Regions from separate parts of the Homo sapiens genome. Here all the other regions are reported to be linked to region 1. Evidence: microRNA targets listed by miRTarBase, many of them from high-throughput screens and not tested one by one. Region 1 holds a microRNA gene; each other region holds the end of a gene's coding sequence.
What was found. Region 1 holds the annotated microRNA hsa-miR-4253 (AGGGCAUGUCCAGGGGGU, at 930-947, opposite strand). A microRNA usually pairs through its seed, bases 2 to 8, with sites in the 3' UTR of a target mRNA and lowers its output. Matches are read on the target gene's strand: a 7mer-m8 pairs with bases 2 to 8, a 7mer-A1 pairs with bases 2 to 7 and ends in A, and an 8mer does both.

Region 2: miRTarBase lists DNAJA2 as a target of hsa-miR-4253. Seed matches in the 3' UTR shown: 7mer-A1 at 1,804-1,810.
Region 3: miRTarBase lists SH3RF2 as a target of hsa-miR-4253. The part of its 3' UTR that is shown has no 7-base or 8-base seed match.

The regions. Positions count from the first base shown.
Region 1 is chr1:22,862,240-22,865,239 of GRCh38, forward strand. It overlaps MIR4253 (microRNA 4253), which reads right to left and starts at 987; the gene lies at 920-987. It overlaps EPHB2 (EPH receptor B2), which reads left to right. Exons shown (of 16, transcript NM_017449.5): 4 at 798-953; 5 at 2,638-2,973. RefSeq lists a silencer at 2,786-3,000.
Region 2 is chr16:46,954,462-46,957,812 of GRCh38, forward strand. It overlaps DNAJA2 (DnaJ heat shock protein family (Hsp40) member A2), which reads right to left. Exons shown (of 9, transcript NM_005880.4): 9 at 901-2,759. The coding sequence ends at 2,568. Among named protein-coding and RNA genes, the nearest start is that of DNAJA2, 18 kb to the right of the region's middle.
Region 3 is chr5:146,062,186-146,065,536 of GRCh38, reverse strand. It overlaps SH3RF2 (SH3 domain containing ring finger 2), which reads right to left. Exons shown (of 10, transcript NM_152550.4): 10 at 2,245-3,111. The coding sequence ends at 2,836. The region is part of intron 1 of LOC107986458 (a long non-coding RNA gene); the gene reads left to right. Among named protein-coding and RNA genes, the nearest start is that of PLAC8L1, 42 kb to the left of the region's middle.

The DNA of each region.
Region 1 (3,000 bases):
CATGGGAGAAGCCAAATGAGGGCCGAGTGCAAGCAGTGCCCTCCTTAGGCTGGCCCTGGTACTGCAGGCCCGCCTTTTATTAATATTTTAATAAATTGATCACATATTCATTGGGCACCTATACTGTGCAAGGCCTTGTGCCATGGGCCTTACGCTTAAGCAGAATACTCACAATGACCCTGCAGAGATGGGCCTTAGAATCCTAATTTTACAAATAAGAAAACTGAGTCTGAGTAGTTAAGCAGCTTGTCTGGGGCTGCACAGCTAGTAAAAGGCCTAGCCAGTACTCAAAGCCAGGTCGGTCTTATTCCAAAAGTAGTGTCCTCCTCTATTCTACCACATCACCTCTCTACACTGCCCTAGGACTTTTCTTCTGCCGTATAATCATCTTAATTGTCTGTAACCCAAGGATCTAGTTCTAAGAATCAGGGCCCAGCCAGACATTATTAAGCAAGACCAGGACCCATGCACACTGCCCCAGACATCTTCAGATGTGCCTCCTAACTAGGTCAGGATTGATTCTAGAGACCATGACACAGCCAAGCTGGGATAGGTGAGGGAAGATTGCTGGGAGCCCTAGACAGCTCACGGACAAGAAACTAGGGAGCCCTGACAGAATTAGAACTCCCACGTTGGGGCCTGGAGACTTCAAACCCTTCAAGAGATGAGATTTTCCAGCAGTGGTGCTGCATGGCCCCTCCGCGAGGCTGTGTGGCCCCTCCGTGAGGCTGCGTGGCTCGTGACCTCTCTGAGTCTTCATCCAGTTTCCTGGTGACTCTCCTTGTCTTCTCTCTCAGGTTGTCCATCTGGGACTTTCAAGGCCAACCAAGGGGATGAGGCCTGTACCCACTGTCCCATCAACAGCCGGACCACTTCTGAAGGGGCCACCAACTGTGTCTGCCGCAATGGCTACTACAGAGCAGACCTGGACCCCCTGGACATGCCCTGCACAAGTAAGTCCTAGGGCCCCTCAAGGGCGATGGCTGGCCGAGTCCCAGGTCTACCTGCAGAAAAGCTCAGAGTGAGGATTGGGTGCCGTCCGGTTACAGCCAGTCTTTCCCTGGTGGGAAGAGAAATGGAAAAGTGCTCAAGAAAGGGGCATCCTGGGGTGGCCATGCTCCCACCTTGCAGACACCACAGTGCTGGCATCTGGCTCCTTACCCCCTTCTGCTGAGTCACATGGAAGATAAAGTCAAGGTCTGGATTCACAAAGGGACAGGGGATGGGAGGCTTGGCAGGAGATGAAGCAACACAGGTAGTATATGTGGCAGAAAAGGCTGCCCAGTGTTCTAACCTGGCAGCAGCTGCCTGAATCACAGCCCAAGGTCCTCTAGGAAGGCACTGCCTGAGAACGCAGCGTCACAACCCCTGTATCTGTCAGGGATGGCATTCAGCTGTAAGTAACAGAGCTGAGCCCTATGGCTGAAACTGTACGGATTTATTCTCTCACCCAAAAGGAGCCCAAGGTAGACAGTCCTGGGACAGTATGGGCAATCCACGATGGCCTTTGGGGCCTGGCTCTTTCTGCCATTCAGAATGGCATAATCCTAGCTCACTGCAGCCTCAACCTCCTGGGCTCAGGTGCCCTCAGCCTTCTGCCCTCAGCCTCCTGAATACCTGGGATTACAGGCGTGCACCACCACACCCAGCTAATTTTTCTAATTTTTTGTAGAGACAGGGTCTCGCTATGTTGCCAAGGCTAGATTTGAACTCCCGGGCTCAAGGAATCTTCCCGCATCCTCCCAAAGTGCTGGATTACAGGCATGAGCCACCACGCCCAACCTAGTTTCTGTTCTTTTTTTTTTTTTTTTTTTTTTTTGAGATGGAGTTTCACTCTGTCGCCCAGGCTCTGGAATGCAATGGCATCATGATCTCAGCTCATGGCAACTTCCACCTCCCGGGTTCAAGTGGTTCTCCCACCTCAGCCTCCCGAGTAACTGGGATTACAGGCATCCGCCATCATGCCCGGCTAATTTTTTGTATTTTTAGTAGAGACGGGGTTTCCTATGTTGGCCAGGCTGGTCTTGAACTCCTGACCTCAGGTGATCCGCCTGCCTCGGCCTCCCAAAGTGCTGGGATTACAGGTGTTAGCCACTGTTGTTTCTGTTCTTAACGTCACTTCATAGTCCAGCATAGCTGCTGAAGTCCCAGCCATCACCCACATTTTAGGCAGCAGAAGCAGGGAAAGGACAAAGGGACACGCCATAGCTGTCTGTCTCTTTTTAAAGAAACAGCCCTAGTCAACAACTTCTGCTCTATATCAGTGGCAAGCACTTAAACACAGGAGGCTGGGAAATGCCATCTTTTAGCTGGACATATTGCCACCATGAATAAAGCTGGGCTGTTCTAAGGAAGAAGGAGAAAATAGATACTGGGCAGGTATAATTCCAAACGCAAAAATACTATCCTCAGTAACAAACACTGAGCAGTTTGTAAGCTGGGAGGAGAGAAAGGTTTGGGCAGATGTACAGCAGGCTAACTTGTATTCTAGAAACATTTCTCTGGTGGGGAGACAGGACAAAGAATTTAAGGAAGTCCTTTCAGAGGGGCTGAGCCAGAGCAGCGGGCACAGAGTGGTCACATGGGGAATAGTACCCCCTGAGCCCCCCACTGACCAACACCTCTCCCCCGCCCCAGCCATCCCCTCCGCGCCCCAGGCTGTGATTTCCAGTGTCAATGAGACCTCCCTCATGCTGGAGTGGACCCCTCCCCGCGACTCCGGAGGCCGAGAGGACCTCGTCTACAACATCATCTGCAAGAGCTGTGGCTCGGGCCGGGGTGCCTGCACCCGCTGCGGGGACAATGTACAGTACGCACCACGCCAGCTAGGCCTGACCGAGCCACGCATTTACATCAGTGACCTGCTGGCCCACACCCAGTACACCTTCGAGATCCAGGCTGTGAACGGCGTTACTGACCAGAGCCCCTTCTCGCCTCAGTTCGCCTCTGTGAACATCACCACCAACCAGGCAGGTAAGTGCTTCCGACGTGGGCCAGGGG
Region 2 (3,351 bases), not on the chromosome of region 1:
AGGCACATGCCACCACACCCGGCAAATTTTCGTGTTTTTAGTAGAGATAGGGCTTCGCCATGTTGGCCAGGCTGGTCTTGAACTCCTGACCTCAGGTGATCCACCCACCTCGGCTTCCCAAAGTGTTGGGATTATAGGCGTGAGCCACCATGCCAGGCCTTTTTCTCATATAAGGTACTTATACTGTACCAAATGGTAAACAGAAAACTGTTTACTTACCATTGTGTTACAACTGCCTATGCTAACAAGCTGTACAGGTTTGTAGTCTAGGAACAATACACTACACCATATAGGTGTATAGTCGGCTACACCACCTAGGTTTGTGGAAGTACACTCTGTTTGCATGATGAAACCGCCTAACCATGCACTTCTCAGAATAGGTCCCTGCTGTTACTGTGCTGATCCATGCTGCCGACAAGGATAAACCCTGAAAACATTAAGCTAAATGAATGCATCACTAAAGGCCACATATTTTGATCTCATTTATACAACATGTCCAAAATAGGCAAATATTTAGAAGCAGAATTAGCCATTAGTGATTACACCAGGAGTTGAGGAGAGAATGGAACAGAAAGTGACTTAATGGATAGAGGGTTTCTTCTTTGATGAAAATGTTCTGAAATTAGTGGAGATGGCTGAATATACTGAAATCAACTGAATTGTGGCAAATTTTTTAAAGTGGTAAATTTTATGGTATGTAAATCATATCTGGAATAAAGCTGTTACAAAAAATTATCTGTGCTGGTGACACTGTATGGTTGGTTCTCTCGACAGGTGCTCTACAAACTAGAGCAAGGAGACCAAGTGAAATAACACACCTTAACAGAAACTCTCTTCCAGTAGTTTTCTTGCCTACAGTCAAAACACCTGGGTAGAAATGAAAGACAGACTACACTGAACAACTGTTTTATAAACCTTTATTGGAAAGGCTACAAACTTTATATTGCCACCACATTTCTTATGTTTAAAGTGGTTGTGGGGAAGTAACCTTGGATACAAAACTACTATGCTGTTGAATCTTACCCAGGCTTGTTGTAAAATATTTTTTGTACAATGGAGGTAGAGTGGATAGGTCAATAATTTAAACCTCACAGGACTTGATTAGTGTCAGCACACCTTTTTTCATTCAGGTTTTCAGGTTCTAGCAGACCTAGAAATAAACTACAAATACTAGATTTAGGCTCAGGGATGGCATTTAATACATTTAAAATTTTTAGTTTTCAGTTTTCCCCATTTGTTCCTTTATAAATGTAAAATTGTGCATCTGATGTCTCTTTCCTCAAATAAGTGTGTTCTAAAAATACCTACTGAGTGAAATGGTAAAAACCAGATGATGGAAAGAGAAACACAACATCCGTTTCATCAATTTTACCTGATTTTTCTCAAACCAGCCTTTTTTTTTTGCTTATTTTTAGTTTGAAATATAAATAACTACAACAATGCATATTTCAGTTGCCTTCATTCTTAAATTCTGAATAAGCATCTTACTTTTCTATAAAACATTACAGAAACTCAAAATAATAATCAATGGCTTCTCCAATTCCAAATATTCAACTTAATGGAGACAGCATCTTTTACATTTAATGAAAACAGAGGATTTGAACACGTTCTATGCAGACATGGTTTTACTATAGATTTGCTGTTACCTTATTTTTTTAAGGGGGTGGTGGTAGGGAGATACAGAAGTCAGGCTAGCCCAGTGCTTGGGAGTTACAGCACTCAAGACACCCTGGCCTCTACAGAGCATCACTGAAGCCACTGAAGACTGTCTCTACCAGCCTTTTGTCTTCCAAGACTATAAGATGGGCATAGGCCTGAGATATAAGCTTCAGGCCAATGGGTTTTTATGGGCTGTTTAAGAACCAGTACTAAGGATACATTCTTTTATGTTTTTCCTTCTAAAAATGTGACACAAAAGAATAATTTACACCAACCGCTTTTTATTATCGAGTTTCAGAAACCTTTCACAAGATGGTAAAAAAAAAAAAAAAGAAAAAAGAAAAAAAAAACAAAACCAAAAACAAAAAAACTTTACAACCACAGCTAATGTAATTTTTTCCATTGTTCCCAGTCAGCTCCAAACCCATTGTGTGCAAAGCCCATTTTTTTCCATGCATCTAAATGATAGATACAGGCTATGAAATTCTTTATTCTATTTGTAGCAGCTTATGCAGGTGCAGCCAAACACAAAGCTTCAGGACAAATTGTACAAACTTTACAATGTGGGATTTAAATTTAAAATATGAAACATAAAAATCTACACAAAACTGATAAAAATCAAGCACAGATACCAGGATTGAAACTTATAATAATCCATGTGTGAAAGGGAGTCTTGTTTCCTTTCAAGTGCTTTATTCTGCTATGGAACAGTCAAAATGAAGATGTAAAGCTTTGTGGTTAGTTTAAATTATACACTCTGTAGATACTATACCAATTTTAAAAGTTATACATAGACCAACAGATGTCCCTCAGTTCATCTGGATTGATAAGACACTCCAGCTGGATTGCTGAGAACAAATCAGGCAAATGTGGAAAGAAAATCCACCTGTGCAATTTGTTTGCAGAGTTTACTGATGGGCACACTGCACTCCAGGTCCATGATGGCTGCTGCTTTCTTCATCAGAGCTATCATTATAGGCTTCACGCCTCTGACCACCTCCTGAGCCTCGAGTGCTATCAAATTCCTGAAGCTCTACCTCCTCTGTTTCTCCAATTATGTTAGGAACTTCCGGTCTAGATGGCAGAAGATCTTCTAGTTCCTTTATTAAAACAAACAAAAACCAGGTTGGTTGTAATATTTTCATCAACTTTCCTTTTGATACATAGAATCCAGTGTCTGTTTAAGAGTTTAAAAAGGGGCTGGGTGTGGTGGTTCATGCTTATAATCCCACCCAGCACTTTGGAAGGCTGAGGCGGGCGGATAATGAGGTCAGGAGATGAGACCAGCCTGGACAACATGGTGAAGCCTTGTCTCTACTAAAAATACAAAAAATTAGCCAGGCATGGTGGTGGGTACCTGTAATCCTAGCTAGTCAGAAGGCTGAGGCAGGAGAATCGCTTGAACCTGGGAGGTGGAAGTTGCAGTAAGCTGAGATTGTGCCACTGCACTCCAGCCTGGGTGACAGAGCAAGACTCCATCTCAAAAAAAAAAAAGTTAAAAAAAGGAATGTGGACTGGACTTTGAACTCTAAGTAAAAGATCACAAACTCATCACTCACAGGCCAAATTCTGCAGACATCTTTTGTGCAACCCATCTATTGCTTTAAGAACCAAAAAAAAGGTCATTATCTGCCAATACTTAAACATTAGAAAGTTTCTACAGGAGACACACCTTCCTGCATCCGGCATGGA
Region 3 (3,351 bases), not on the chromosome of region 1:
CTCCATTCCATCTAAGCACCCTGCTTGTCAGCCACAAAACTTAAAAATTAACTGGATACATTGCCACTGAGGGATAGACTAAATATTTGGTCGGCCAGTCATGCCATATCTGTGCCACTCTGAGTGTAGAGTAGACTGCTAAACATTGCTAAACTCATTGAGAGTGCTTTTTGGGTAAAGATGAGGTATAGGTACTTATATTTTGACAAATCACACAATGCCTCCCTGTCCTTGGGACTTTATCTCATTTCTCCATCTGGATTATTATATTTAGTTCAATGAGGCATGGATTTGGGCATGTTGATTTTGTGGACCTAATGGGTCAATATCTCATGTTTGTTTGGGTCCACAAACATCAGATATTGACCCAAAGTTTGTGAGATGTGGACCCAAACGTGATTGAGATAGCTAGAACAACGTGCTGTCATGTTGGCTCTACCAGCCCCAAAGGTCTGACACAATGGCAGTATTTTATGGGAGGAGTATGGTTTTGTTTTGTTTTATTAAGGTCTGGAAAAAGTCTGTGGACAATTCTGTTTGCCGAGTGTGTGAGTGGGTGTGTAAAAGATACATGTTTTGAATCCCAGGACTTTCAAGAACTATCTAGGGGAAAGGTCTAATTAGACATGCCCCTTCCTCCCTCCCTCCCTGCATCTTTTTCTTTTTCTTTCTCTTTCTTTCTTTCTTTCTTTCTTTCTTTCTTTCTTTCTTTCTTTCTTTCTTTCTTTCCTTCCTTCCTTCCTTCCTTCCTTCCTTCCTTTCCTTCCTTCCTTCCTTCCTTCCTTCCTTCCTTCCTTCCTTCCTTCCTTTCTTTCTTTCTTTCTTTCTTTCTTTCTTTCTTTCTTTCTTTCTTTCTTTCTTTCTTTCTTTCTCTTTCTCTCTCTCTCTTTCTTTCTCTCTCTCTCTCCTCTCTCTCTCTCCCTCTCTCTCTCTCTCTCTCTCTCTCTCTCCCCCTTCCTTCCTTCCCTCCTTCCTTTCTTTTTCTTTCTTTCTATGGCACCCAGCCTTAGTAGCAAATGTTATTTCTGCGTTAAAGTGCCCACATTGATGGGCATGCAATAAATGTTAAATCACAACAATTAAGTTTAATGAGAATTAATGGGTTGTCTCACAGCATTGCCTTGGCTTCCTGGGATGCCTCCTCTACCCTGATTACAAGGCTCTCCCTGGCTGGTCCTGCTCACGTCAGTTCCATCTTAGTGGGGTCATCTAATTTTGCCCCATTCTTCATCGCAGGCTCTGTCCTTCTTTCCTCACCCTGTCAGGGAATGTAAGGTTGCCCCACCCCTTGTCTCCTTTAGCCTCTTCCTGTGCTTTCCCTCAATCCTCTTTCACTCTTACTCTTATGCCTACTTTCTTTCCTCCACATTTTCTTTAACCCCTCCTCTTTCTCCTTCTCCTCTCCCCTGTTTTCTCCTCCAGCCTTCTTTGTCCTACCCTTTTTATAGCAGCTTTCCCCTAGGAAGCACTCCCACCCCAGCCTCGGGCTGCCATGTTCGCACTGGTGTTGTTGCCTTGTGAGTGAAATAGCTCATCTGCCCCAAGTGAGAAGAAAGCAGGGAAAGTCAGGAATATTGCAATGCAAACAATATATATCCAAATATAGATCCTAACCCCAACCCCATATAAAGTTGTTTTTTAGCATGTTGTGCTTTCTTTTTTTCTTTTTTCTTTTTTTAGACAGAATCTCACTCTGTCACCCAGGCTGGAGTGCAGTGGTGCAATCTTGGTTCACTGTAATCTCCGCCTCCCGGGTTCAAGCTATTTTCATGCCTCGGCCTCAAGAGTAGCTGGGATTACAGGTGTGCGCCATCATGCCTGGCTAATTTTTGTATTTTTAGTAGAGATGGGGTTTGATCATGTTGGCCAGGCTGGTCTCAAACTCCTGACCTCAAGTGGTCTGCCCACCTCGGCCTACCAAAGTGCCAGGATTATAGGCATGAGCCACTGCACCTGGCCCACGTTGTGCTTTCTTGAAGTCAGACTATATATCTAAACCCTAACCCCATATAAGATTGTTTGTAAGCACGCTGTGTTTTCTTGAAGTCAGACTGTAGAGCCAGGATGAATTAATTGTCCATAATGCCATACATGGCCCTATCCACAGCCACATGCTTTCTGCTTATCTATTGCATAGGATTATATGTGGGAAAATGGATCGAGAAGCTTAAAGTATGATAATCCTTTGATATTTGGTACTCAGTGATCTCTCTGACCTTCTTAAGTGGAGCATACTCAGGAAGCTGGCTCCTTCTAGTTTTATTGGGTTCTCAGAATGTTCAAAGTATCCACCTCACACCCCGCGCAGAAATCCTCCCTTTGCAGCCAGGATTATGACTTTACAGAGGGAAAAAGATATGGCAGCTACTAGTGGCCAGTGTACAGGCCCCAGAAGATGGCAGAAGTTGTTCTAATGCTTGTTGAGGATATTGTAAGGTCAAAGAAGCAACGCCAACAATCCCACCGTTGTCACACCCCTGCTGCAGCCCCCTTTAGGACACCATAGAAATTCTACACAGTAACACGGGGATGACAAGAGGCCACATACTCCATGCTGGGGCATAAAGTGGGCACGACAATTTTTCACTCCTTGGTCTGAGTAAGCGAGCTTTGTGGCATCAAATCATTATGTTTGTATGTTTGGAAGGCCACGCCATCTATCCTCCCACCCAGGGCAGGAATTTCTGCTCCCACTTTTGCTTTCCTGGAGGTGAAATAGGAAGAACAAGGACCCATGCTCAAGTCCCCAAAGAATGGCAGGATGCCCTCAGTGGAGGCAGACTGTATTTAAATGCAATTCACCTCTTTGGGGTCTAGGAAAAGCCACCCGTAGGTTCATTTGCTGGGAAACACGGTCTGCGTGCCTGAGGCAGTGGACACCAGGGTTGTGGCCTTGCCAAGAGCTGACTTTCTCCGGAGGTCTGTCTGCTGTCCGGAGTGGCAGCCACTTCGGTGGGCAAATAGGACGGTCATCTCTGGGCCCAAGGACGCTGCTTCAGGCTGGGACGCCTTGAGGGTGGCTGGCTGTTCAGGCTTTCCGGAGGTGGGATGGGAGGTGTAATGTTTGGTGGGAGGAGGGCTGTAATTCTGAAATCTCACGGTTTTGACTTGCTGCAAGAGAAAGGAGAGGAAATGGACACAGGTGAGGTGGGAGATGTCTATTTCCCCATGCTTGTCCCCACTTGAAATGTCTCATTTATGTGTTCATTCTGCAAATATCTGTGGCTACCATGAGTGTCAAGTGCTAAGATGGGGGAAGTACAAGATGCTGAGAATGCAGAGGAGCATCTAACTTCAGCTGGAAGTGGAGAAGCCAGGGAAGTCTTCCCAGAAGCTTTAAATTGAGAACCA